4 linked regions of the Homo sapiens genome follow. The protein of the gene in region 2 interacts with the protein of the main gene of each other region in a pairwise test. Each region holds a gene or a part of one and is shown on either strand. Other genes may lie near its edges.

Region 1 (7,030 bases), on a different chromosome or scaffold from region 2:
AATTTCCAAGATGCCAGGCCACTAAGGAACATTTCTTCAAGGCTTGGGCTCTCTGCCTTCTCCACCTCTTGGAAAAAGTGCTCAAGCTTACAGACAGACTCCTTCCTTCCTTCCCTCAGCATCCACTACCAGTGGGCTTGTTCAGCACTGACATTAGTGAGCAGGCAGAGGCTGGGCCTTCCACTTTACTCAACAGTCCTCCTTGCATAAGCCCTTACTTCCGTTTCCTCTTCCCCTTGCAAGAACTCTCACGCACACCCATGGATTAATCACCACTTGCACAATGGTGACTCCCACAACTTCATCTCCAGCTCTGGCCTTGTCTCTAAGTCTCAGACTCATAGATCCAACAACCTGCTGAACAGACAGACATGCACATAAACGTATAGATGTTTCTTAGACACCTCAAGTCAGTATTTCCAAGACTGAACTCACCATCTTCTTTCCCCACCAAATCGGCTTCTCTTCTCATATCCCAAACTTAGTTAATGGCTTAATGTCCAGTCACCCAGAAAGCCAGAATCTTGGGAGTCATTCTGGACTCTCTTCTCCCCTCACCATTGCCCCCAAAGACATCAAAATTCTGCTAAATTCGCTTCCCCAAGTATCCTGGTATTTTCTCTTTCCCTTCTGTGCCTGCAGCAATGATCTCATTTGGTCTCTCATTGTCTTTTTCCTAAACACTGCGAGGCCTCTAGTCCTGCTGTCCATGAATTCTTCTTCCACCCCGCAGCCAGTCATCCACCTTCCGTGTACATCTGACTACACTACTGGAGGATGGAAAATGTTCCATTGGCTAACCAGCAGCCTGTGGAGGGGTCCACGTCCCCTTGCATTGGGTATACCTGAATGTGGCTCCTCTCCAGTGTCACCTCCCAATTCTCCCCACCATGAACCTGACAGTGTCCCCTTTGCTCATGTTGTCCCCTCTAAATTGCACGTCCTTTTCATTCCTCTTACTTGGTTTCCATATTTAGGCCTTATTTCCTCCAGGAAGCCTCTGTGAATCTCCAGGCTGGGCTAAGCGCCTCACCTCTGTGTTTTCAAAGGACCTCATACATACCATGATTTTTTATCACTTACCATGTTATATTAAAATTATATAGTGACATATGTCTTGCCCATTAGTCTACAGAATCTTCAAGAGTGGAGACCTTATCATCTCCATCAAAAACTAGCACAAGCTTGATACATAATAATAGTTCTTAAACTGAACTGAACTGATGCAGCTTAGCCTTCATCTTGAATCAAGAGAACACCATCTCCTAAATCTAGCCATTGGTAAAATTGTTGGTACCGTTACTATTTTCATACAATTCTTAGAGCTAGGTAAGTCCCTTGATTTCTACTACTGTGTCTCACAGACTGGCATATGTGTGAATCCTTTCCCCCCAGATGATATCTGAAATCACAAGACGAACATAATCCTGGAGTATCAATTTCACCTAAAGATTCTGGAAAAATGATTTTCATTTTAAAACAGATACAGACATATTGTGGGGTAGCATATATTTTTTAGTATTAAGAGAGACTGCACTTATGCCAGGCTGTTCTCAGACAAGTCTCCAGGTCCCTGGGAGTTTAGACTCTATTGTTAGTGCTGACGATTGAGAAACAGTAATCTATAGATCACTGTTTTGCACTGTAGTTTAGTTACTGTTCTAGAGCCTCCCATAGAGAAATAAACAGCCCCAGTGAGACCGAAGCAGGAGCTATCTCAGTAATGGCCAGAAGAGAGGGACTTTCATTGTGGGTCTGAGTTAGGTTTGAAAAGATGTCTGTGTGATTGACAGGTAGGTATTCTGAAATGAGCACAACAATGAGCTTTGTATAATGTATAAAATATGCCAGATTGTAGATCAATGTAGGGGAGGAGGCAGAAAAATGACCATTAGAACAGATCAAAGAGAAGCTCTGGATCAAAGTGCAGGCCGATCAAAGACACTGGAAGGAAGGGAAGGGCACTACAGTCAAGGGATGGAACATGAGGAAAAAAATAATCCAAACTGAACTGTGGCTCAGGAGGGACTCGATGCAGGGTGGTTGGTGATAACCTAAGAAATAATTAGATATTTAGTAGGGTGATATGGGGAGTTTTCAATCCAGGAAATTCTACTTAGAGTCCTAGTAGTTAGAGATCTTTCAAGTTTGTTTTCTTATAGCTATTCCATACCATCAGATTTGAGAATGAGGTAGCATCATCCAAGAGGTGGTGACATAAAAAGATTTAACAGAAACAGAGGAAATAGCAAGGGGACAGGTAGGAAGGGCTAGTTTAAAACAGATAATAGGGTCAATTTAAGTCAACTAACATTTATCAAGTACCTGTTATGCATAAGGCACTGTTCTGGGAGATGGAGTTGCAGGGGTGACAAGCCTGGGCCTGTGCTGTCAGGGAGTTTGCAGTCTTTGTTGAAGTCGCCTAAGAAGGAAAAGCTAACAGCAAAAAATCAGGGTCTAATGGGCAGGCTTTCCAAGTGAGAGGCCTTAAGAAGCTAAAGCAGGAACGATTCCTATCAAACGTAGTATCTGTTCCCTTCACGTGATCTAAAACTTTCCCAGGAAAAAAATAAAAAACATGAATCTGCTCCAAGTTTTGATGATCACTGTGGGGCTGCAGAAGGGAAAAATTGCATGGATTTGGAGGGTGACCTTCAAGGACAGAAATTCTGTCCCAAATTCTAGAGATATTAGAAAAATATTTTCCCAGGCTGGGTGTGGTGGCTCATGCCTGTAATCCCAGCACTTTGGGAGGCCGAGGTGGGTGGATCACAAGGTCAGGGGTTCGAGACCAGCCTGACCAACATGGTGAAACCCTGTCTCTACTAAAAATACAAAAATTAGCTGGGCATGGTGGTGGGCGCCTGTAATCCCAGCTACTCAGGAGGCTGAGGTAGGAGAATGGCTTGAACTCGGGAGGCGGAGCTTGCAGTGAGCTGAGATCGCGCCACTGCACTCCAGCCTGGGCCACAGAGTGAGACTCTGTCTCAAAAAAAAAAAAAAAAAGAAAAATGTTTTCCCAATATAATCCATATTTTGCAAATGGTTATCAAAAAGTAAATTAGTTGTACATGTAGTCAAAGAGTTTTCATTCCCTAGTATCTCAGAGCTTTTTCAATAGAAAATAAAACATGGAGAACATCAGCAACTTCAAAGTGCAGGCGGAGTCAAGGACACATTTCCCATTTTGAATCCTAGACCTCCACCTGTCCACCTTACAACAAGAACCTCCGCTATTAAGCAGATGACATAATAAATACATCTAAGTTATTATGTGACTTTTCTCAAACAGGAATAAATGGCTAGAAATGAGATCTTTCTACAGAGAAACCCATTATATGTACTAGAAAGCACTAGAGACAGATGATGATAAGCCATCAAAAAGGCCTTCTCTGCTTAACCACCCTGCAATGAAGCCAGCCAACCTACAAGCCATGCTCACAGATGACGCACACCATCCCCAAACATGTATAAAGCTTCCAACGTGAAAGGCAGGCCAAAAGCAACATTAAACGTCACTTTAAAAATAGACACAGACATTGTAGGTAGCTGAAGAAAACTTCTAAAATGTAGAAAAAGTACTGAGTTAATATGCTTGGAGAAAGAAGAGAAGATGCTGCGTTCATGAAATGAGAACAGGATACTGTAAAAACCATTCAGAAGACCACACCTCTCGCCAATAAAAGCTCCTGAGAATTAAAAATATAATGGTAGAATGTAAACATTTAATAGCATTGTTGGAAGATTTATTAGAACTAAAAAAACATGGGATATTTTTTAAAATAAAAAAGATAAAATTACAAGACAGATCCAAGAGATCCCATTTTCAGATTCAGTCTAAGTAATTTAAGTTTCAGAAAGAAAGAACGAGGAAATTATATAACAGAAGAAAACCACTCAGAACTGAAGAATGTACTTTTTGGATTGAAAAGGCCTAGAAAATACTTAGGACAGTGACGGATACCTCCCTGTATTCCCCCCACCCCGCCAAAAAACCCACCCCAACATTAAATAACAACATCATGAAATATCAGAATATGAACAATAAAGAAAACCCTACAAATGCCCAGAGATTAGAACAAAATACAAGGGATCAGGAATTAGAATGGCATCAGCCTCTCAACAGCACCGTAAGAAAGTAGAATAAAATAGAGCAATGTTTTCAAAATTCGTACGGGAAATGATTTCTGATTAATATCCCATACCCAGCCAAACCAGCAAGCAAGTGTGAAGGAAGAAAAGTGACATCTCAAATGGGCACAAGCTCAAAAAGCAACCGCATCTTATGGGGCCTGAATCTTATACACTTTTGGGAGCCTTCTTTAAGAAAAAGGCGTAAAATTACAAAAACTGTACATAATTGGGTATGAAAGTACATATGTATTCCACAAGAGATGGCCTAGACAGAAAAAAAAAGTGTGTGTGTATTTAGAATGAGAAAATAAATCACAACAGACAGGGACCGTGGAGGTTCTAGACTCTGTCTTTTCAGATGTGCTTGGAAAATTTACCCCAAATGCTTCTTGATGGCGGCCTGGCGTTTCCTCCCCACTCAACAGCTCCATGCAATTAGCAGCACTCAGAGGGCCCCCATGAGTTTCCTTGGCTCCAGGAAATGACTTCTTGGTGATGAGTTCTCAAACAACTAAAGAAAATGTAGCAACTCCTACACCCCATTCCAGGGGGTTGGGGGAAAGACTGGTCAAGAAGGGAAATGTAAAGATCATGGTGTATCATGTGCCTTAGTTGGGAATAATATATACACCAAACATTGACATATCAAAAATTTAGGATATAACCGTACTGGGAACTTAAAAGAAAGGGATGTGAAGGTGAGAGGGAGGGTGGGGGTGTAAAGGAGCGAAACCCTCATCCTTCTTGGTAGGATGTCAATAGATGTCATCCAGAACTGGAAAAGAGAAGAAGAAATGGCCCGTATCTGCATGCTATTTAGAATATGGTAATATCAGAAAAACACAACCCAAAGCATTGAAAGTAATTGCCGCTAGGGTTCTATACTCAGTATAAACTCAATGAAAACCTTCTACAATGAACGACTTCTAAGACTATACATTGATTTATGTTGACCAAAGCAGATAATTAAAAAATAAAGTATACCCTCAAGAGGAGTGAGGCAAAAAGCTAACAGAAATAAAATAAAGTCGCTTTTGCTAAACTACCTGACATTCGGTGTTTCTCAAAATGTATTCCCGCAACCACCTGCCCTCAGATGACCTGGCGTGCCCGTCCATAATGGAGAATTATAGACCCAGCCCAGACCTACATAATCAGCAGTTCTCAGAGTGGTCCTTGCACTCTACCATTTAAAAAAGTTCCCCTGGACCCACTGCATTACCCATTGCTTTTTAGTAAAACAAACAAAAAACCAAAACAAATAACAACCTATTTAGAGACAGGATCTATGACTCATAAAACACACTATGGCAGATGCTGCTAGCTGCCTACCCAATGTTCATTCTCCCCCCGCCTTATTAACAAAATTCCTATTTTGTTGTTATTATTATTTTTTTGAGATGGAGTTTCGCTCTTGTTGTCCAGGCTGGAGTGCAAGTGGCATGATCTCGGCTCACTGCAACCTCTGCCTCCTGGGTTCAAGCGATTCTCCTGCCTCAGCCTCCTGAGTAGCTGGGACTATAGGCGCCTGCTAGCACGCCCGGCTGATTTTTTGTGTTTTTAGTAGAGATGGGGTTTCACCATGTTGGCCAGGCTGGTCTTGAACTCCTGACCTCAGGTGATCCACCCGCCTTGACCTCCCAAAATGCTGGAATTACAGGCGTGAGCCACTGTGTCTGGCCCAAAATTCTTATTTTGATGTATTGGCAACGTGTCTGTCTCAAACACTAGATTCTCTCTGGTTCCGTCACCGTTAACAGTGTGTATGTGATATGGTTCTGGCCAATGACATGTAAGAAGTCTTTTGGGGTGGGCTACCAGAAAAGCTGTTATTATTATTATTTATTATAAAGAAGGACAGGCCAGGCGTGGTGGCTCACATCTGTAATCCCAGCACTTTGGGAGGCCGAGGGGGGCAGATCACAGGGTCAGGAGTTCAAGACCAGCCTGACCAACATGGTGAAACCCCGTCTCTACTAAAAATACAAAAATTAGCTGGGCGTGGTGGTGCACGTCTGTAATCCCAGCTACTTGGAGGCTGAGGCAGGAGAATCACTTGAACCCAGGAAGCGGAGGTTGCAGTGAGCCGAGATTGTGCCACTGAGAGAGACTCTGAGTCAAAAGAAAGAAAGAGATGAGACAGAGAGAGAGAGAGAGAAAAGAAAAGAAGAGAGAAAAGAAAAGAAAAGAAAAGACAAGACAAGACTCTTCTGGAGCATGCCTCTGCCCGTCTTTCTGCTGCAACTTGCGGAAGTGAGTATGAAAGCTCCATGCTAAGGAGGGTGGTGCGGGAAGACACAAGGAGCCTGTCTCAGATGACGTTCATATCGGAACCCCTTTCCCAGCCCCAGCCTTCTCACCTCCAGACTTCTCGTTCTCTGAGAAAAACAAACTCCTTACTTGTTTAAGCCGCTGTAGTAGGGTTTTCTGTTCTTGTAGCTGAATGAACGTCTAATGACATCTCACACTTTTTCAGATGTTTATCTGACATACCACATTTTATGTATGCCTGCTATGGGCACTGTGCTAGGAATAAGACAAGTAAAGCTCTCTTTGTCATGGAACCAGGAGCACAGTTAGAACAGAAGTTAGAACTTTAGCCACTATAATAACGGCTACAGTTATAATAACAGTTAGAACAGAAGGTCCATAGGCATTTGAGGCTGGGATTCAAGGAGGTTATGTTTGCTGTCACAGACCTCAAACCAAAAGAGTACATCAAAATAAGTCACTGGATTTATACATTTGGCAAATTCTCAAGGGACCACATGACAGAAGGAGCAAAAATCTGAACATTGTTTTTAGCTGTAATTCTCCAATGAAGTAGATTTGGGGAAGCAACATGAGGTACTTGCTTTATTTTTCTTAAATCCGGTTTTCTTCCTTGAAAAACCAC
Region 2 (5,967 bases):
AAGCTTCATGGCCTGGCTGGACAGGAGGGGGCTGTGTACAGTGGGAGGAGGCCAGGGCAGGTATGTCTGGTGGTGGGCGCAGCAGAGACAGGCTGGGTCACGGGGGACAGATGGGGACAGGGCCTGAGTGGGGCTCCCCACTGCCCTGCTCAGAGGGTACCGTCAAGGGTGGCAGCTCACCCCTGCTGGGCTGGCCTGGGTACTGAGCCCTGCCTTCTCAGGGGCTGGAGGCCTGCCACTCCTCGGCTGATTCCCGCAGATGCCACCCGGCTCAGCTGGGCCTGGTACCCAGAAGCCCTGCCGCGGCCTCCAGATGCAGGGAGGTGCCTACCTGCCAGTCTGTCTTGGGTGTGTCATTTGTCCATTTCTTTGGACATGTTCAGGCAGTCAGTGAGCCTAGACCCTGGTGCCTGCCAGGCGGTGGGCGCACTCAGGCCTTTTACCTGCCCAGCCCCCAGAAGCCTGAGGCAGCACGCCAGGGGCCTGGGGCCTTCCATGGGGACTGCAAGGCTGCAGACCCCTGCCTTTCTGGCTGCGACATGGGAGGCCTGGCTGGGTCACTTCCCCTCCTCTCAGGGTGGTCTTCAAGGTTTGCGGGAGGCTAGAGAGACATCAGTGCTACAGTGCAGCCTTGGGCCCCTCGGGAGGGAAGCCTCCCCCAGTTGGGGGCCAATGGGCCTTCCACCCATGGGGCCTCCTGCCAGAGGTCTTTTCTGGAAAGGGGTTCTGCCTTGGGCCAGCCCTGGGGAATGTGGCAGGTCAGGTGAAAGGTCAGCAAGCTGTCTCAGAGCTGAGCCTTGCAACTGACCTCTCCAGGCTTGAGAGAGGCCCAGAAGCCAGGGACCTGCTAACATTTTATTGTGGAAAGATGTGAAGTTTACAGAAAAGTTGCACAAATACTCCAATGAACTCCAGGAGTCCATCCACCTAGTCTTGCCAACTGCCAACATTTTGCTACATTGCTGAATCCTCTATCTGAATGCTGAAATCATTTGAGAGTAAGTTGCAGAAGTCATGTTCCTTTGCCCCTAAATTCTTCCTAAGAACAAGGACATTCTCTTAACACACCAGAGTCAGCTATCAAAACCAGGAAGTGAGCACTGAGGCAGTCCTAAGCCACACCCTGTTCAAACTTCACCAACGGACCTGAGTCTCCGATCACAGGCCTGTCCCTCCCCGTCCAGGAACATTGAGCTGTCTCCTTAGTCTCTGATCTGGAACCTTTCGGCCTTTCTTTGTTTTTCCTAACTTTGACATTTGGGAAGGCCCATTTACTTTAAGACTGACCCTGAGTCTGGGTTGGCTGATGTTTCTGCGTGGTTTGCCCTAGATGGACACAACTGGCCAGAAAACCCTGGAAGGACCTCTGTGTCTTCTCGAGCATCCGCCTCTCTGGGTGCTGGTGAACCTATGAGGAGGGCAAGTGTCTGGCTTGACTCTTGCCCCAGCGCTCAGGGATGGAACCCGCAGGGACAAAAGGTGCCCTAGGGTCGCCGGCTGGCCGGCAGGGTCTGTTCACAGAACGGCAGCCTCCCTGCACTGTTTCTGGGCAGCACAACCGCTCCTGCAACTGTCCAAGGCCTTCAGCCCACCTGTGCTCACCACCACGGCACCTTATCCCCAAGCCTTGGCTTTCTTGTCTCTGAAATGGGGATAAAAGCAGTTCCCACACCACAGAGTAGCTGGAGTCAAAGAGATGAGGTGTTGGGACATCCCCAAGCTCATCCAGGGAACCGGCTTGAGGGTCGAGTGTCCCTGGATCACAGTCTCTATCCCAGTTGAGATTAGAGCATGGGGCCGGCCGCAGTGGCTCACACCTGTAATCGCAGCACTTTGGGAGGCCGACACGGGTGTATCACCTGAGGTCAGGAGTTCAAAATCAGCCTGGCCAACATGGCAAACCCCGTCTCAACTAAAAATACAAAAATTAGCTGGGTGTAGTGGCAGGTGCCTGTAGTCCCAGCTACTCCGCAGGCTGAGGCAGGAGAATCGCTTGCTTGAACCCGGGAGGCGGAGGCTGCAGTGAGCCGAGATTGTACCACTTCACTCCAGCCTGGGCACAGAGCAAGACTCTGTTTCAAAAAGAGAGAGAGAGAGATTAGGACATGGGCAGGCCTGCCCTGCTAACACTGTGATGTCAGATGGTCTGGCTGGGCTGGAGAGGCCAAGAGCCGACCTACCATCCCCATGTTGAGCTTTCCAGCGTTTCTGGGGCATCCTGTCTGGTTGCCGGGGATGGATGGCCCAGGGTTGGAGTGGTGGTCAGGGGAGGACAACTGGGGTGGGCTGGCTGGTGAGGATACAGGGCGGGGGTTATCATGCAGGCGTCTCAGCCTGTGCTTTCTGTGGGACTGAGAATGTCTCCTTTCTGCTCTCTGGTCCCTGGGTACCCCAAATCCTGCCAACTCCCAACCCTATAAGCAGAGAAGGGCTTTGTGGGGGGCACCTCCCTTACACTGAACAGACACTCCTCCTGCCCACCCACCGGCCCTGCCCAATGGGAGGCAGCAACGCACTGGCTTCAGCTTCTTAGCCTGGGAAATGTGAGGGCTAGTGCAGCGCTGAGCCCAGACCCCTCACACAGCGCTACCGGCAACTTGCTTAACCTAGAGGTGGGGGGTGACGTCCCTGTCGGCCCCGTCACCTGGGGCCCCAGCACCTCTCCTTGGCTTTGCAGACGATGTTCCACAGGAGCCCGTGCCCACGCTGTGGAACGAGCCGGCCGAGCTGCCGTCGGGAGAAGGCCCCGTGGAGAGCACCAGCCCCGGCCGGGAGCCCGTGGACACCGGTCCCCCAGCCCCCACCGTCGCGCCAGGACCCGAGGACAGCACCGCGCAGGAGCGGCTGGACCAGGGCGGCGGTACGGGCGGGGCGGGGGAGGGAGGGGAGAGGGAGAAATTAGGAGGGGCGGGGGGCGGGGGGCGCGGGGAGAAGGGCCGGCCAGGCGGGGGCTAGCAGGTGACATGGTCCTCCGTCCTCCGCAGGGTCGCTGGGGCCCGGCGCTATCGCGGCCATCGTGATCGCCGCCCTGCTGGCCACCTGCGTGGTGCTGGCGCTCGTGGTCGTCGCGCTGAGAAAGTTTTCTGCCTCCTGAAGCGAATAAAGGGGCCGCGCCCGGCCGCGGCGCGACTCGGCTGCACTCCTCACGCGCCTGTATGTCCGCGCGTGCGTGTCCGCGCATGCAGGTGTGCCAGAGCGTGAGCGCGCGCAGGCGAGCGCTCAGGGCGGGGGTGCGCGCGGGGCCGAGGGTGGGTGCCGTGCACGCGCGCGGGTCCGGAGGCGCGCCCGAATTCCCCGCAGGGGCGCCGGGGCGTGCGTGAGCGCACAGCATGTCCGAGCCCGCCTGCGTGTGGCGTGCACCTGAGCGCGCGCAGGGCCGCGCGGCTCGGCGTCCCCGTGCACCACGGCTGGAGTGCCTCAGGAGCGCGCCGCATGTGCGTGCCCGGTGCGCGTGCGCCGGGGCCGCCAGGGCATCGGAGCGGGTGTGCGGCCAGCGGTCTTAGCCCGTCCGGGGGCACCGTCACGGTCAGGGCCACGCCACGGGCGGCCCCTTCTCCCGGCGCCGCCTCCTCTGCCTGGGCGCGGGCCGAGGCCCTCGCCGCGCTCCCCGGGGCCTGCCTCCCATCCCGCTCCGCTGGGGTTCAGAGCGTTCCGTGAGGAGGTAAGCGCTAGGGCAGGAGAGGCCGACAGAGACCCCGGGGCCCGCCGCTCCTTGAGGCCGGGGTTGGGGAGGGCAGGGGCCGTCGGCTCTCCCAGCCAGAGGCCGCGTGGTTTTGGGGGACGTCTTGACTCTGAGTCCTGCAGCCAGGGCCCCATCCGCGGGCTCAGACCAGCAGCCCCAAGCCCCCCTCTGCCCAGGGAGCCTCAGGAGCAGGATGAGTCGAGAGTCGACGCCGGACACGGCCCGCCCCTGCTTCCTACTCTCACCCCCAGGCCTGGCTGGGGGCCGGCAGCCCCCACGCCCACGGTTGGTTTGTTCAGGGAGAGAAAACGGCTTTCCCAGCTCTACTCACCTCACTTCACCCTCAGAGAGTCGGGGCGGAGTGAGGGTGAGGAGCCTGGTCCAGGGTCCCCACCTCGGAAGCATTTAGAGATGTAAACTTTGATCCTTTGATCATTTAACCTGCTCAGCACAGCAGGAAGTGGGAACTTGGTCCCTACCCCAGTCCCCAGGGCCTTTGGAGGGAAGGGTTGGACAGTTTGGAGGCCAGCAGACCCCTTGGGGACAGCTTAATGTATCTGAAGATTCCTGAGTGGGAATGTTGCTGGAGGGCAAGCTGCTTCTCTTTTTTAAAAATTCATTTTCTCTAGCAGCTGTTTTGGCCCCTTTGGTGTCCCTGAGCTCCCCATGGCACTGTTTCCTGCCGTGACTTTCTCCTCCTGGACACTGGAGCCCAGGTGGTGCCCGCGCACCTCTCACACACTGGGGGATAGGGTCAAGGCCTCATCCAAGTCTGTTAACAGCTTCCCACTCAACCAGTCTCCCCAAAATACACTGTGAGTTCAATGATTCTGCTTATAAAGGAGTGCTATGAAACTGACCTATTTTCCTAATTGGTTAACTGACTTCATCTCACATAACCTTGAGTAACCAAAGCCTTCATCAGAGCGGACGATCCAACCCAACATGCTGTTTCCCATCCTCAAAAGGCACGGGGACCAATGGCCACCCAACTCCTTCCCAACCCTCCCCTCCAGGGACGAGAGATGGCCCCCTCTTTCCCTTTCCCCACTCTGCAAGCACTCCCCCACCAACGGGTGCATCACAGCCCCTCACTGGGACCAGGGGGCCTCCCTCTCCGGTGGAACCAGTGTCACATGCCTGTGCATCTCTGTGATTCTCAGAGGGTCTGAGGTCCGAGCACCCTGCTGTGGCCTGTGGGAAGACGCTACAAAGTCCCACTGGATCTAAACCAGAGGCCTGTTCTGGCGAGCAGGGAAACTGTGTCCTGGCAGAGATCGTGGTCCTGGGCACACAGGACCCCTCAGCACACTGAGGTGGAGCTGGGGCGAGGGGAGGGGGTGCGCTCTGGGTAACTGAAGGTGTGAAGGGCCCAGGGCCTGTTTCTGGGCAGTGCAGGAAGTCCCAGCCCCATGCCTGTGGTGAGATCCCCTGTAGGGCCCCCCCCACCATGGACACTTCGGGGCCTCTACGGTCTTCCAAAGCTGTGTCCTCATTTCCACTGCAGCAGAGGGGCGTCCCCAGCTCCGTCAAACAGCCCTTTCTGTTTCTGGAGTCCTACAAGTGGAGGCCCAAATCCGTTCCCATGTTGAGGCAAGGCCCTGGCTGTTCCTTCCTCTCTGGAAACCGCCTTGAACTCTTCCTTTGGGACATGCCTCCTCGACCAGCCTTGAAGGGGTGCTCCTCTCTCACTACCTGGAACCAAACACCCCCTTCCTTTGTGTACAAGGGCAATAAAGAGTAGACCTTCATCTTCTTTATTTTATATATGATGCTTCTTTTAATGCAGCCAAAAGTGATATTTGCTTTTCTCAGAACCATAATCGATACAAGATGCAGTGACCAATTCATTCCTTAAAACACCTGGGCTCCTTAAGGGGCTAGAAGACACAAGTTACATCCAGCCCATCAGGGAGCCAGAGGCGGGAGGGGTCCCCAGCCAAGCTCTGGCAGGCCTGCCATGGGGCAGGGCCTGACCGTGCAGCCAGAGGCTGGCAGAGGCCTGGGGAAGGGTGGGCAGAGGCAGCTGGGCTCTCAGTCCTGGAACCGGAGACCAAGGGCTGCTCATCAAGCTCCGTCAGGCAAGGGCGGCCTCATCTGTGCCTGGTAGATTCTAACTGCTTCCAAGGTAGAGGAGGACGCGTGCAGGAAATCGTGTCAATTGTCACCTTCTGCCTGCCTCCCACAGGGACACTCTGGGTTGGGAGCCTCTTCCAGTCCCTGGGGGCCAGGGGCATGGGGGGCCCTGGAGTGTGCCCACCCCCTTCCACCCCCTCGGAGGCATG
Region 3 (7,030 bases), on a different chromosome or scaffold from region 2:
GAAACAACTTAACTATCTTTGTTTATGTCACATTTTCAAGAGTGAGGCGTTCAAGATAAATTACTGTGATTATCTAATTTATGTTTAACTTAGGTTTTTGTTTTGTTTTGTTTTTTGAGAGGGAGTCTCTTTTGCCCACACTGGAGTGCAGTGTCGGCTCACTGCAACCTCTGCCTCCTGGGTTCAAGCGATGCTTATGCCTCAGCCTCCTAAGTAGCCGGGACTACAGGCATGTGCCACCATGCCTGGCTAATTTTTTGTATTTTTAGTAGAGACGGAGTTTCACCATGTTGGCCAGTCTGGTCTTGAACTCCTGACCTCAGGTAATCCGTCTGCCTCGGCCGCCCAAAGTGCTGGGATTACAGGTGTGAGCCACTGCGCCCAGCCCTACCTTAGGTTTTAAGTGGTAATAGTAAACTCATGCATTGAAAATATTTTATCTTTTCTACAGTTAAGAAATAGAAATAATTTCTGTGTTTAGCTACATATGATAAATGAGAAAATATGTTATAAAATAACTAGCAACCAAGCTGCCAGTATTATTTTTATGGTATCATAAGATGATATGGCTATATTATATGTAGATGTTTGAAAATTTGAAATGGAAAAATTCTGTTCTAGTTCTGTGGAATGTAATTCCTCATTAAGATCGGAGTTTGTCTATGTCATTTTTATGTCATTTTATGTCATTTTTAGCTATTATTAAAAAATGTTTTAATAATAGTATTTATATGTCATAAGGAATAGGTGTCATAGCTAGCCTGTGTCACTATATATAATAAAAGGTTAAACCTAATTTTGTTTCCCAAAGAAGATACTTCATTTTGACAATGTCTAAACTTTCAGAAAATTTATGCTAAAATTGGTAGCTACCGTATTATTCCGTTTTCATACTGCTATAAAGAACTACGCAAGACTGGGTAATTTATAAAGGAAAGAGGTTTAATCCACTCACAGTTCAGCATGGCTGGGGAGGCCTTAGGAAACGTACAATCATGGCGGAAGGCGAAGGGGAAACAAGGCACCTTCTTCACATCATGGCAGGAAGTAGTGCCGAGCAAAGGAGGAAGAGCCCCTTATAAAACCATCAGATATCATGAGAACTCACTCACTATCACCAGAACAGCATGGGGGATACCACACCCATAATCCAATTACCTCCACCTGGTCTTTCCCTTGGCACGAGATTATGGGGATTATAATTCAAGATGAGATTTCAGTGGGGACACAAAGCCTGACCAAATCAGCTATTCAAGTTGCTTTGAAATTTTCTTTTCTGACTAGATTTTGGTTTTCTTTTGTGAGAAAGGGTTTCACTCTGTTGCCCAGGCTGGAGTGCAGGTGGCATGATCTCTACCCACTCATTGCAGCCTTGACTTCACAAGCTCAAGCCATCCTCCCACCTCAACCTCTTGAGTAGCTGGTACTACAGGTGCACGCTACCACACCTGGCTCATTTTTTTGTATCTTATTTTAGAGACGGGGTTTTGCCATGTTGCCCAGGCTGGTCTTGAGCTCCTGAGCTTAAGCTATCCACTCACCTCAGCCTCCCAAAGTGCTGAAATTATAGGTGTGAGGCACTGTGAGTGGCCTAGATTTTGTTTCTCTGATGGTGCTGGTTCTTTCATTCTTCCTTTTTGGTCCTGTTATTTATCTTAATAGTGGGATACGTGGAAGGCTGAGGCAAGAGAATTGCTTGAGTCGTGGCACTACATTCCAGCCTAGGCAGCAGAGCGAAACCGTCTCAAAAAAAAAAAAAAAAAAAAAGGGATGTAAAAGTCAATATGTATATTAGGTCCTTGCTCAGTATTGAGCTCAATAAGAAGATGAACAACTCACATTTAAAAATTGGCAAAACAGGCCAGGTACGGTGTGGCTCATGCCTTTAATCCCACCGCTTTGGAAGGCTGAGGCAGGCAGATCACTTGAGGTTGGGAGTACGAAACTAGCCTGGCCAACATGGTGAAACCCCGTCTCTACTAAAAATGCAAAAATTAGCCGGGTGTGGTAGTGCACACTTGTATTCTCAGCTACTCAGGAGGCCAAGGCAGGAGAATCGCTTGAACCCAGGAGGCAGAGGTCACAGTAAGCTGAGATCGTGCCACTGCACTCCAGCCTGGGCAACAGAGTAAGACTCTGTCTTCAAAAAAAAAAAAAAATTGGCAAAACAGAAAAATGAACAAAATCTTATCCTTTGCAGCAATATGGATGCAGCTGGAGACCATTATCCTAAGGAGATTAACACAGAAACAGAAAACCAAATAACACATATTCTTACAACTGGGAGCTAAACATTGTGTATTCATGGACATGAAGATGGCAACAGTAGACACTGGGAACTGCTAAAGGGGAGGGAGGCAGGAGGTCAAGGGTTGAAGACTATTGGGTACTATCCTCACTACCTAGGTGGGAGGATCAGCCATATCCCAAACCTCAGCATCACACAATATACCCATATGACAAACCTGCACATTTACCTCCTCAACCTAAAATAAAAGTCGAAATTATATTAAAATATTTTAAAAAGGAAATTTGGGCACACACAAAGGGAGAACACCATGTGAAGATGGAGGCAGAGATTGGGGTGATAGACCTACAAGCTAAGGGACACCACAGCTTCTCCCTCAGATCCTCCAGAAAGAATCAACCATGCTGACACCTTGATTTTGGACTTCTCGCCACTAGAACTGTGAGTGAATACGTTTCTGTTGTTTTAAGCTAAAAAAGAAAACGAAAATGCAAGCACGAACACATTGTTCTCTGCAGTTTAGGGAATCCTAGTAGAGACTACTGCTCACATTTGTTCTCTCTTCTCTGCTTTAATGGCCACTACCTTAGTTTTATCTCAAACTATTTTCTTCCAGACCATTTCCATGGATTTTCAACAGGTTGTCTTGCCTTGTCTTCTTCCACTAGCCCTCTCTGCTATTCCTGTGGCCCTCTAATCCATCTTCCATCTGATACCAGAGTGACTTCATAGGTGAACAATTTCCTAGTTAGGCTAATATTCAAATATTTCAGTGGTTTCCTATTATGCACAGGTTAGATTCTTACTTACCTGTTGAATATCAGAGTTTGTCATCATACGGCACCTGCTCAGTTCTACAGCTCCCTTTCATTAAATTCTAACAATACTATGGTGCTTAGTTTCCCAGACACTTAATGCATGTCATATCTCCGTACCTTTGCCTATGCAGCTTCCTCTGCATGGAATGAAGCTCCTCCTCCCATATTCCCATGAACTTCTGTACTCTTCATCTTTCAGAAACCTATTTAAGTATCAAAACCTGTACAGTTTTTGCTCATGCCAGTAAAAAGTGAATAACTTGTACCTCTGCGTTGCTTCTGTATTATTGCTGATAGTACACAGTATTATGATCGTCTTTTATAGGTCTGTCTTCCATACTAAATGGCAAGCTCCTTTCTAACAGGGAGTGTGTTTTATAATTTTTGTATCTTCAGTACCTGTCCCACCACCTGATACATGTGAGTGAGGTATTACAATTTTAGAAGGTGCTGAAAGTTTTTTTCTTAAATATTTTAAGTAGTCTTCCTGTATTTTAACTTACACTGTCATTATTCATAAGCCATGAACAAAGACAAGTAAGTACAGACCTTGTAGGAATTATCTCAAATGCCAGTTTATTGGAGTACAAACTCAATTAGGCTAAAACTTACTGAGGTCTTGGTTTATGTAAGTCTCTGTTAAAGGGTAGGGAGTTAGGGATTTTTTGTTTAGTTGGGGAGGAGACAAATATTTACCTAACTATATAGTTTTAAGGCAGAATGCATTAATAGTTTGAATTGTGTTCTGTAGTTTTTACTGAGTGGGTTCCTACTTCATTCGTTTCTCCCAGCAATCCTATGAAGTTAGAAGACTCTTTACTTTTCTTTGTGCCTTGAAAATTCTGCGCTCAAGTGCTTGAGCTCCTGGCTTCTCATTCGTTAGGTCTCTGCTTAAAGGTTCTTTTTTCAGAAACCTTCCCTGACCCCTTACCTAAAATTGCAGCCACCCTACTGCTTTGCCCCAGGTTAGTTTTTCTCTTATGTCATCCTTTATTTCCTTTATAACAGTTACTATAGTCTGTGATCATCTTGTTTATTTGTTCACTTGTTTATAGTCTCTGTCCTCTGAAATATATACCCTATGAGAGAAGGGACCTTATCTATTAGCCTGTATCCCCACATAGTGCAGTTTGTGGAGTGTGGTAGGTACTAAGTAAATATTGTTGAACAAATGAGCTTACAGTTGTTATTCCTGCTTTACAGACAAAAGAAACCTGGTTCCAAGTATATGAAAATCTGGATTTATACCACAGATAAACTGAATTAGTTGTTTACTGAAGTCCTGTTATGTGCAAATTACTAAGCACTGGTTACATAGATATAAATAAGACAGCTACTGTATTTGCATTTAGCACAGTATCTCTACATAGTAGGTGTATTAGTCTGTTTTCACACTGCTATAAAGGTAACTACTCAAGAGGCCAGGTGCTGTGGCTCATGCCTGTAATCCCAGTACTTTGAGAGGCCAAGGTGGGCAGATCATGAGGTCAGGAGATCGAGACCATCCTGGTCAACATGGTGAAACCCCATCTGTACTAAAAATACAAAAAAATTAGCTGGGTTTGGTGATGCACACCTGTAATCCCAGCTACTCAGGAGGCTGAGGCAGGAGAATCACTTGAACCCCTGAGGTGGAGATTGCAGTGAGCCAAGATCATGCCACTGCACTCCAGCGTGGTGACAGAGTAAGACTCCATCTGGAAAAAAAAAAAAGATAATACCCAAGAATGGGTAATTTATAAAGGAAAGAGGTTTAGTTGACTCACAGTTCTGCATGGCTAGGTAGGCCTTAGGAAACTTACGGTCATGGTAGAAGGGAGCGCAGACACCTTCTTCACAAGGAGGCTGGAGAGAGAAGAGTGAGGAGTGAAAGGGCAAGAGCCCCTTATAAAACCAGATCTCATGCGAACAGCATGGGGAAAACCACTCCCATGATCCAATCACCTCCCACCAGTTTCCTCCCTCAACATGTGGAAATTATGGGGATTATAAGAGGTGAGATTTGGGTGGGGACACAGAGCCAAGCCATATTATTCCACCCCTGGCTCCTCCCAAATTTCACATTCATTTTGCATTTCAAAATCAATCATGCCTTCCCAACAGTCCTCCAGAGTCTTAATTCATTTCATCATTAACTCAAAAGTCCACAGTACAGAGTCTCATCTGAAACAAGGCAAGTCCCTTCCACCTATGAGCCAGTAAAATAAAACATAAGTTAGTTCCTTTTAAGATACAATGGCAGTACAGGCACTGGGTAAATACACCTATTCCAAATGGGCAAAATTGGCCAAAACAGAAGGGCCACAGGGCCCATGCAAGTCTGAAATCCAGTGGGGCAGTCATTAAATCATAAAGCTCCAAAATGTTCTCCTTGACCCCATGTCACATCTGGAGAACACTGATGCCAGGGGTAGGCTCCCATGGCCTTGGGCAGCTCCTTCAAGGGCTGGCATCGAGTGCCTGCGGCTTTTCCAGATGCATGGTGCAAGCTGTTGTTAGATATACCATTCTGGGGTCTGGAGCAGGTAGCCGCCTTCTCATGGCTCTGCCAGGCAGTGACACAGTGGGGACTCTGTGTGAGGGCTCCAACCCCACATTTCCCCTTTGCACTGCCCTAGCAGAGGTTCTCCATGAAGGCTCCACCCCTGCAGTAGACTTCTGCCTGGACATCCAGGTGTTTCCATACATCCTTTGAAATCTAGGGTGAAGTTCCCAAACCTCAATTCTAGACTTCTATGCACCCACAGGCCCAACACCACATGGAAGCCACCAAGGCTTGTGGCTTGCTCCCTCTGAAGCAGTGGCTCAAGCTGTATGTTGGCCCCTTTTAGCCATGGCTGGGACACAGGGCATCAAGTCCCAATACTGCACAAAGCAGCAAAGCCCTGGGCCTGGCCCACAAAACCATTTTTTCCTTCTAGGCCTCTGGGCCTGTGATGGAAGGGCCTGCTGTGAAGACCTCTGACATGTCCTGGAGACATTTTCCCCATTGTCTTGGCAATTAATATTTGGCTCCTTGTTACTTATGCAAATTTCTGCAGCCAGCTTGAATTTCTCCCCAGAAAATGGGTTTTTCTTTTTTTTGGGGGGGCGGGGGGAAGGAGGGGGACAGAGTCTCACACTGTCACCCAAGCTGGAGTGCAGTGACACAATCTCAGCTTGCTGCAACCTCCGCCTCCTGGGTTCAAGTGATTCTCCTGCCTCAGCCTCCCGAGTAGAACTACAGGTGTGCACCACCATGCCCAGCTAATTTTGTATTTTTAGTAGAGACGGGGTTTCACCATGTTGGCCAGGACGGTCTCGATGTCTTGACCTCATGATCTGCCCGCCTCAGCCTCCCAAAGTGCTAGGATTACAGGCATGGGCCACCAGCACCCAGCTGGGTTTTTCTTTTCTGTTGCATCATCAGACTGCAAATTTTCCAAACTTTTATGCTCTGCTTCCCTTTTAAACCTAAGTTCCGATTTCAGGTCATCTCTCTCTCAAGTTTCATCAGTCTCTTGGGCAGGGGCAAAATGCCACCAGTCTGTTTGCTAAAGCATAGCAAGAGTGACCTTTGCTCCATTTCCCAGTAAGTTCCTCATCTCCAGCTGAGACCACGTCAGCCTGGATGTTATTGTCCATATCACTGTCAGCATTTTGGTCAAAACCATTCAATAAGTCTCTAGGAAGTTCCAGACTTTCCCACATCTTACTGTCTTCTGAGCCCTCCAAAGTGTTCCAACCTCTGCCAGTTACCCAGTTCCAAAATTGCTTCCACATTTTCAGGTATCTTTATAGCAGTACCCAACTCTCTGTTGTAGCAATTTACTGTATTAGCTTTCACACTGCTATAAAAGAAATAAAAACATAAAATAAAAATACTACCCCAAACTGGGTAATTTATAAAAGAAATAAGTTTAATTGACTCACAGTTACGCATGACTAGGGAGGCCTCAGGAAACTTACAATTATGGTGGAAGGG
Region 4 (7,030 bases), on a different chromosome or scaffold from region 2:
AAACAAGCAATGGGGAAAGGATTCCCTATTTAATAAATGGTGCTGGGAAAACTGGCTAGCCATATGTAGAAAGCTGAAACTGGATCCCTTCCTTACACCTTATACAAAATCAATTCAAGATGGATTAAAGATTTAAACGTTAGACCTAAAACCATAAAAACCCTAGAAGAAAACCTAGGCATTACCATTCAGGACATAGGCGTGGGCAAGGACTTCATGTCTCTTCGGAAAATTTCTACCTTTCAAGTAGAATTATATCATAGCTATTTTTATTTTTTAATCTCAGAATGGATACTATTGGGCACCAAAACTAAGAGTACTCCAGACTTACATCCCTCCTCAAAAGCAACTAATGAGCTGGCAAAAACTGTCAGAATAAACTTTTGCAGAACTCTGGAATCTAGTAAAATTGTTACAATAACCAGAGAGGAAGACTTGGTGAAGAAAAGAACTGATGCTTTGTAGTAAGAGGATACTGTGACATTTTAAAGTGGCTGCCTACCATCCTCCACATCCCAGATCAGTAGAGGCTGTGAGGACAGCCGCCTACACTCTACTATATACAATAATAGAGCCTACACTCTAATATACAGCCTATATCCTAACATACTAATATACACATAACGGGGCTTCCAAAGTGAGAGGAAAGAGAGGAAAAACAGAAAGAGTATTTGAAAAAATGATGGCTAAAAAACTTCATACATTTGGTAAAAAATATGAATCTAAACATCCAAGAAGTGCAATGAACTCCAAATAGAATAAACTAAAAGATATCCACAATCAGACACATTATAGTCAAATTGCCAAAAAACAAAAAGAAAATCTTGAAAGCAGGAAAATTGACTTTTTACATAACAAAAAAAAAACAATAAGACTAACAGCTGATTTCTCTTAAGAACCCACAGAGGCTAGAAGGCAGTGAAATGTGATATTTAAATTGCTGAAAGAAAAAGAAAAACATCTGTCAACACATATACAGAACTCTATGTCCAGCAACACTATACTTCAAAGAATGAAAGCGAAAACAAGACATTCTCAGATAAACAAAAACTGAGGGAGCTGATCACTAGTAGAATTGCCCTTCAAGAAATGCCAAAGGGCATTCTTTAGAAAAACTGAAAAGGCACTCACTGTAACCCACGCTATACAAAAAAATAAGAACACTGGTAAACTATACAGGTAGCTACAAAAGCAAGTAATATTGAGTTTTACGTTTTTTTTAACTCTTTTTACTATCTAATTTAAAGGAAAAAATGCATAAAACAACAATGATAAATCTACGTTAAGGAGTATACAATGTATAAAGATGTAATTTGTGATAATAGCATAAAGGGGGCAACAGAGCTGTAAACGGCTGGGTTTTGTATACTATTAAATTAAGCTGGTATTCAACAGGATCATTCCAAGATGGCTGAATAGGAACAGCTGCAGTCTACAGCTCCCAGCGTGAGCAACACAGAAGACAGGTGACTTCTGCATTTCCAGCTGAGGTACGAGGTTCATCTCACTGGGACTGGTTGGACAGTGGGTGCAGCCCATGGAGTGTGAGCCGAAGCGGGGCGGGGCATCACCTCACCCAGGAAGCACAAGGGGTCTGGCAATTCCCTTTCCTGGCCATGGGAAACTATGACAGATTGCACCTGGAAAATCGGGACACTCCCGCCCTAATACTGTGCTTTTCCAATGGTCTTAGCAAATGGAACACCAGGAGATTATATCCCATGCAAGGCTCGGTGGGTCTCACGCCCATGGAGCCTTGCTCACTGCTAGTACAGCAGTCCGAGATAGAATTGTGAGGCAGCAGCAAGACTAATAAAGAAGAAAAGAGAGAAGAATCAAATAGACGCAATAAAAAAATGATAAAGGGGATATCACCACTGATCCCACAGAAATACAAACTACCTTCAGAGAATACTATAAACATCTCTATGCAAATAAACTAGAAAATCTAGAAGAAATGGATGAATTCCTGGACACATACACCATCCCAAGACTAAATCAGGAAGAAGTTGAATTCCTGAATAGACCAATAACAGGCTCTGAAATTGAGGCAATAATTAATAGTCTACCAACCAAAAAAAGTCCAGGACCAGATGGATTCATACCCGAATTCTACCAGAGGTACAAAGGGGAGCTGGTACCATTTCTTCTGAAACTACTCCAATAAATAGTAAAAGAGGGAATCCTCCCTAACTCATTTTATGAGGCCAACATCATCCTGATACCAAAGCCTGGCAGAGACACAACAAAGAAAAAAAAGAGAGAGAATTTTAGACCAATATCCCTGATGAACATTGATGCAAAATCCTCAATAAAATACTGGCAAACCGAATCCAGAAGCACATCAAAAAGCTTATCCACCAAGATCCAGTTGGCTTCATCCCTGGGATGCAAGGCTGGTTCAACATATGCAAATCAATAAACGTAGTCCATCATATAAACAGAACCAAAGACAAAAACCACATGATTATCTTAATAGACACAGAAAAGGCCTTTGAAAAAGTTCAACAGCCCTTCATTCTAAAAACTCTCAATAAACTAGGTATTGATGGAATGTATCTCAAAATAGTAAGAGCTATTTATGACAAACCCACAGCCAATATCCTACCGAATGGGCAAAAACTGGAAGCATTCCCTTTGAAAACTGGCACAAGACAGGGATGCCCTCTCTCACCACTCCTATTCAACAACATATTGGAAGTTCTGGCCAGGGCAATCAGGCAGGAGAAAGAAATAAAGGGTATTCAATTAGGAAAAAAGGAAGTCAAATTGTCCCTGTTTGCAGATGATATGATTGTATATTTAGAAAACCCCATCATCTCAGGCCAAAATCTCCTTAAGCTGATAAGCAACTTCAGCAAAGTCTCAGGATACCAAATCAATGTGCAAAAATCACAAGCATTCGTATACACCAATAACAGACAAACAGAGAGCCAAATCATGAGTGAACTCCCATTCACAATTGCTTCAAAGAGAATAAAATACCTAGGAATCCAACTTACAAGGGATGTGAAGGACCTCTTCAAGGAGAACTACAAACCACTGCTCAATTAAATAAAAGAGGACACAAACAAATGGAAGAATATTCCATGCTCATGGATAGGAAGAATCAATATCATGAAAATGGCCATACTGCCCAAGGTAATTTATAGATTCAATGCCATCCCCATCGAGCTACCAATGACTTTCTTCACAGAATTGGAAAAGGCTACTTTAAAGTTCATGTGGAACCAAAAAAAGAGCCTGCATTGCCAAGACAATCCTAAGCCAAAAGAACAAAGCTGGAGGCATCATGCTACCTGACTTCAAACTATACTACAAGGCTACAGTAACCAAAACAGTATAGTACTGGTACCAAAAAAGATATATAGACCAATGGAACAGAACAGAGCCCTCAGAAATAATACCACATATCTATAACCATCTGCTCTTTGTCAAACCTGACAAAAACAAGAAATGGGGAAAGGATTCCCTATTTAATAAATGGTGCTGGGAAAACTGGCTAGCCAGATGTAGAAAGCTGAAACTGGATCCCTTCCTTACACCTTATACAAAAATTAATTCAAGATGGATTAAAGACTTAAATGTTAGACCTAAAACCTTAAAAACCCTACAAGAAAACCCAGGCAATACGATTCAGGACATAGGCATGGGCAAGGACCTCATGACTAAAACACCAAAAGTAATGGCAAGAAAAGCCAAAATAGACAAATGGGATCTAATTAAACTAAAGAGCTTCTGCACAGCAAAAGAAACTACCATCAGAGTGAACAGGCAACCTACAGAATGGGAGAAAATTTTTACAATCTACACATCTGACAAAGGGCTAATATCCAGAATCTACAAAGAACTCAAACAAATTTACAAGAAAAAATCAAACAACTCCATCAAAAAGTGGGCAAAGGATATGAACAGACATTTCTCAAAAGAAGACATTTATGCAGCCAAAAGATACATGAAAAAATGCTCATCATCACTGGCCATCAGAGAAATGCAAATCAAAACCACAATGAGATACCATCTCACACCAGTTAGAATGGCGATCATTAAAAAGTCAGGAAACAACAGGTGCTGGAGAAGATGTGGAGAAATAGGAACACTTTTATACTGTTGGTGGGAGTGTAAACTAGTTCAACCATTGTGGCAGACAGTGTGGTGATTCCTCAAGGATCTAGAACTAGAAATACTAATTGACCCAGAGATCCCATTACTGGGAATATACCCAAAGGATTATAAATCATGTTACTATAAAGACACATGCACAAGTATGTTTATTGCGGCACTATTCACAATAGCAAAGACTTGGAACCAACCCAAATGCCCATCAATGATAGACTGGATTAAGAAAATGTGGCACATATACACCATGGAATACTATGCATCCATAAAAAAGGATGAGTTCATGTCCTTTGTAGGGACATGGATGAAGCTGGAAACCATCATTCTCAGCAAACTATCGCAAGGACAGAAAACCAAACACTGCATGTTCTCAGTCATAGGTGCGAATTGAACAATGAGAACACTTGGACACATGGTGGGGAACATCACACACGGGGGCCTGTCGTGGGGTGGGGGGAGGGGGGAGGGATAGCATTAGGAGAAATACCTAAGGTTAAATGAGGAGTTAATGGGTGCAGCACACCAACATGGCACATGTATACATATGTAACAAACCTGCATGTTGTGCACACGTACCCTAAAACTTAAAGTATAATAATAATAAAATTTTAAAAAAAAGCTGGACTCGTATCTTATGCCAGATATAAAAAATTAACTCAGAATGGCTAAAATACCTAAAGGTGAGAGCTAAAAGTATAAAATTATTATAAGAAAACACAGGGCACACGCCTGTAGCCCCAGCTATTTGAGAGGCTAAGGTGGGAGGATCACTTGAGCCCAGGAGTTTGAGATCAGCCTGGGCAACATAGTGAGGTCCCGTATCAAAAACAAAAACAAAAAAAAACAAAAAACAAACAAACAAACAAAAAACCAAAACCAACCAACCAACCAACCAAACAAAAAAATCCCACAGGGGTAAATCTTTATGCTCTTGCATTTGGTAATGGATTCTTAAATATGACACCAAAAGCATAGGCAACAAAAGAAAAAATAGATAAATTGAATTTTATTAAAATTAAAAATCTTTGTGTATAAAATGATACTATCAAGTATGGGGGAAAATGTTTGCAAATAACGTATCTGATAAAGATCAAGTATTCAGAACATGCAAAAAATATTAAAATTCAACAACAAAAAGACAACCCAATTTAAAAATCCCATTTAAAAAATGGACAATGGCTTGAATAGACATTTTCCCAAAGAAGATATATGGATGGCAAACAAGTACATAAAAAGATACTCAATATTTTTTTCATTATGGAAATACAAATCAAATCCATAATGAGATACCCCTTCACACCCAGTAAGATGGCTATAATAAAAATAAAACTGAAAATAACAAGTCTTGGTGAGAATGTGGACAAATTGGAACCCTTCTGTGCTGCTTGATGGGAATGTAAAATGGTGCAGTCACTGCGGAAGATAGTTTGGAGGTTCCTCAGAAAGTTAAACATAGAATTACCATACAGTCCAATTATCCCCATCCATCTCCCTGGTGTATATACTCAAAATAATTGAAGACAGATATTCAAACAAATACATGAATGTTTGTAACAGCACTATTCAGAAGAGACAAAAGGTAGAAATAGCCCAAATGGCCATTAATGGATGAATGGATAACAAACTGGTATATATATATATATATATATATATATATATATATATACACACACACACACACACACACACACACACACACACACACAATAGACTATTATTCAGCCATTAAAAGGGATAAATTACTGTTACATAATATAATGTGGACCAATTTCAAAAACATTTTGTTAATTGGAAGAAGTCAGACACAAAAGAACACATATTTTATGATTCTATTTATATGGAACATCCATAATAGGTAAATCCATAGAGACAGAATGCAGATTAATAATTGGCTAGGACTTGGGGGAAGAGGGAACAGGGAGTGACTGCTTAATGCTTATGAGGTTTCTTTATGGGATAACAAAAACATTTTGGAACTACATAGAGGTGATGGCTGCACAACATTGTGAGTGCTAAATGGCACTGAGGCGAACACTTAAAAATGGTTAATTTTATGTTATATAAATTTCACCCCAATAAAATGGATACTGTTACTTTCCCTCCTCTCTAAAAAGCTAAGCTTCTTATTTTCCTGGGTCAGGAAGAATCCTTTATTTCTTTACTAATCACAAGTTACTATCTAATGAGCTCTTATAATGTGTTGTGAACTGTGATGCATGCTTTTCAGGCATCATGTTATTTGAGCCTCACAGCAGTAATACCTGGCATATACTGAGTGCTAAGCAACCATTTGTCATATGGATGAACAACTGTAGAAGCAAGGTACATGTGAGACAACTGAGGTTGAGAGAGTGAAGTTACTTGCCCCAGGTCTCCAGGCTAGTAAATGGCAGAATTCAAACTCTAAGAATTAAAGGACAAAAACATCTCTTTTGGTTTCAGCTCTAATGTAACGTTAGGGAGAAAGACATCAGGTTTTATCCCTGGAAAGAAGTTAGGTCCTTAATGTTACTTTTTGAGACATATTGAAATGCAAATTTGTTAATTTATTTGTGTTGGAAAAGGTATGGCCTTGGTATCAGGCAGCCTGGATTTCCAACTCTTCACTATTACTAAATGTGTGGCCTTAGGAAAATTTGATTTAACCTTTCCAAAACCCAGGTTGCTAATTTGTTACAAGATTGTTAAACTGATGATGGCAGGAGGGACTGGTTCAGCCAGAGTTGAAAGTCAAAGCTGCCTTATTCTCCTGACTTTTAAATAATGGGAACTGATGCAAAATGTTAAGAAAACACTGTGCAGGCCAGGCAAAATATATCTGAAGGCTACATCTGGCTTGTATGTCACAAAGTTTTTACCTCTGCATTAGTTTAGAGGAGACTGTGGCAACATACTGCCTGGGTTTTAAGTT

What was found.
Region 1: the proteins of SNORC (region 2) and TMEM45B interact in binary tests that used the Homo sapiens proteins (3 or more experiments, as listed by UniProt).
Region 3: the proteins of SNORC (region 2) and CISD2 interact in binary tests that used the Homo sapiens proteins (3 or more experiments, as listed by UniProt).
Region 4: the proteins of SNORC (region 2) and ZDHHC15 interact in binary tests that used the Homo sapiens proteins (3 or more experiments, as listed by UniProt).

Annotation. Positions count from the first base shown.
Region 1 is NC_000011.10:129,818,818-129,825,847, reverse strand, and holds part of TMEM45B (transmembrane protein 45B), read right to left. Parts: intron 1-7,030.
Region 2 is NC_000002.12:232,873,263-232,879,229, forward strand, and holds the end of SNORC (protein SNORC isoform c precursor), read left to right. Parts: intron 1-2,192; exon of another isoform or gene 2,193-2,235; coding exon of another isoform or gene 2,236-2,293; intron 2,294-2,331; exon of another isoform or gene 2,332-2,543; intron 2,544-2,569; exon of another isoform or gene 2,570-2,677; coding exon 2,678-2,860; intron 2,861-2,984; coding exon 2,985-3,094; 3' UTR 3,095-5,438; downstream 5,439-5,967. UniProt on the Homo sapiens protein: Plays a role in the regulation of chondrocyte maturation and postnatal endochondral ossification. May inhibit cell growth stimulation induced by FGF2.
Region 3 is NC_000004.12:102,871,983-102,879,012, forward strand, and holds part of CISD2 (CDGSH iron-sulfur domain-containing protein 2), read left to right. Parts: intron 1-7,030. UniProt on the Homo sapiens protein: Regulator of autophagy that contributes to antagonize BECN1-mediated cellular autophagy at the endoplasmic reticulum.
Region 4 is NC_000023.11:75,513,023-75,520,052, forward strand, and holds part of ZDHHC15 (palmitoyltransferase ZDHHC15), read right to left. Parts: intron 1-7,030. UniProt on the Homo sapiens protein: Palmitoyltransferase that catalyzes the addition of palmitate onto various protein substrates.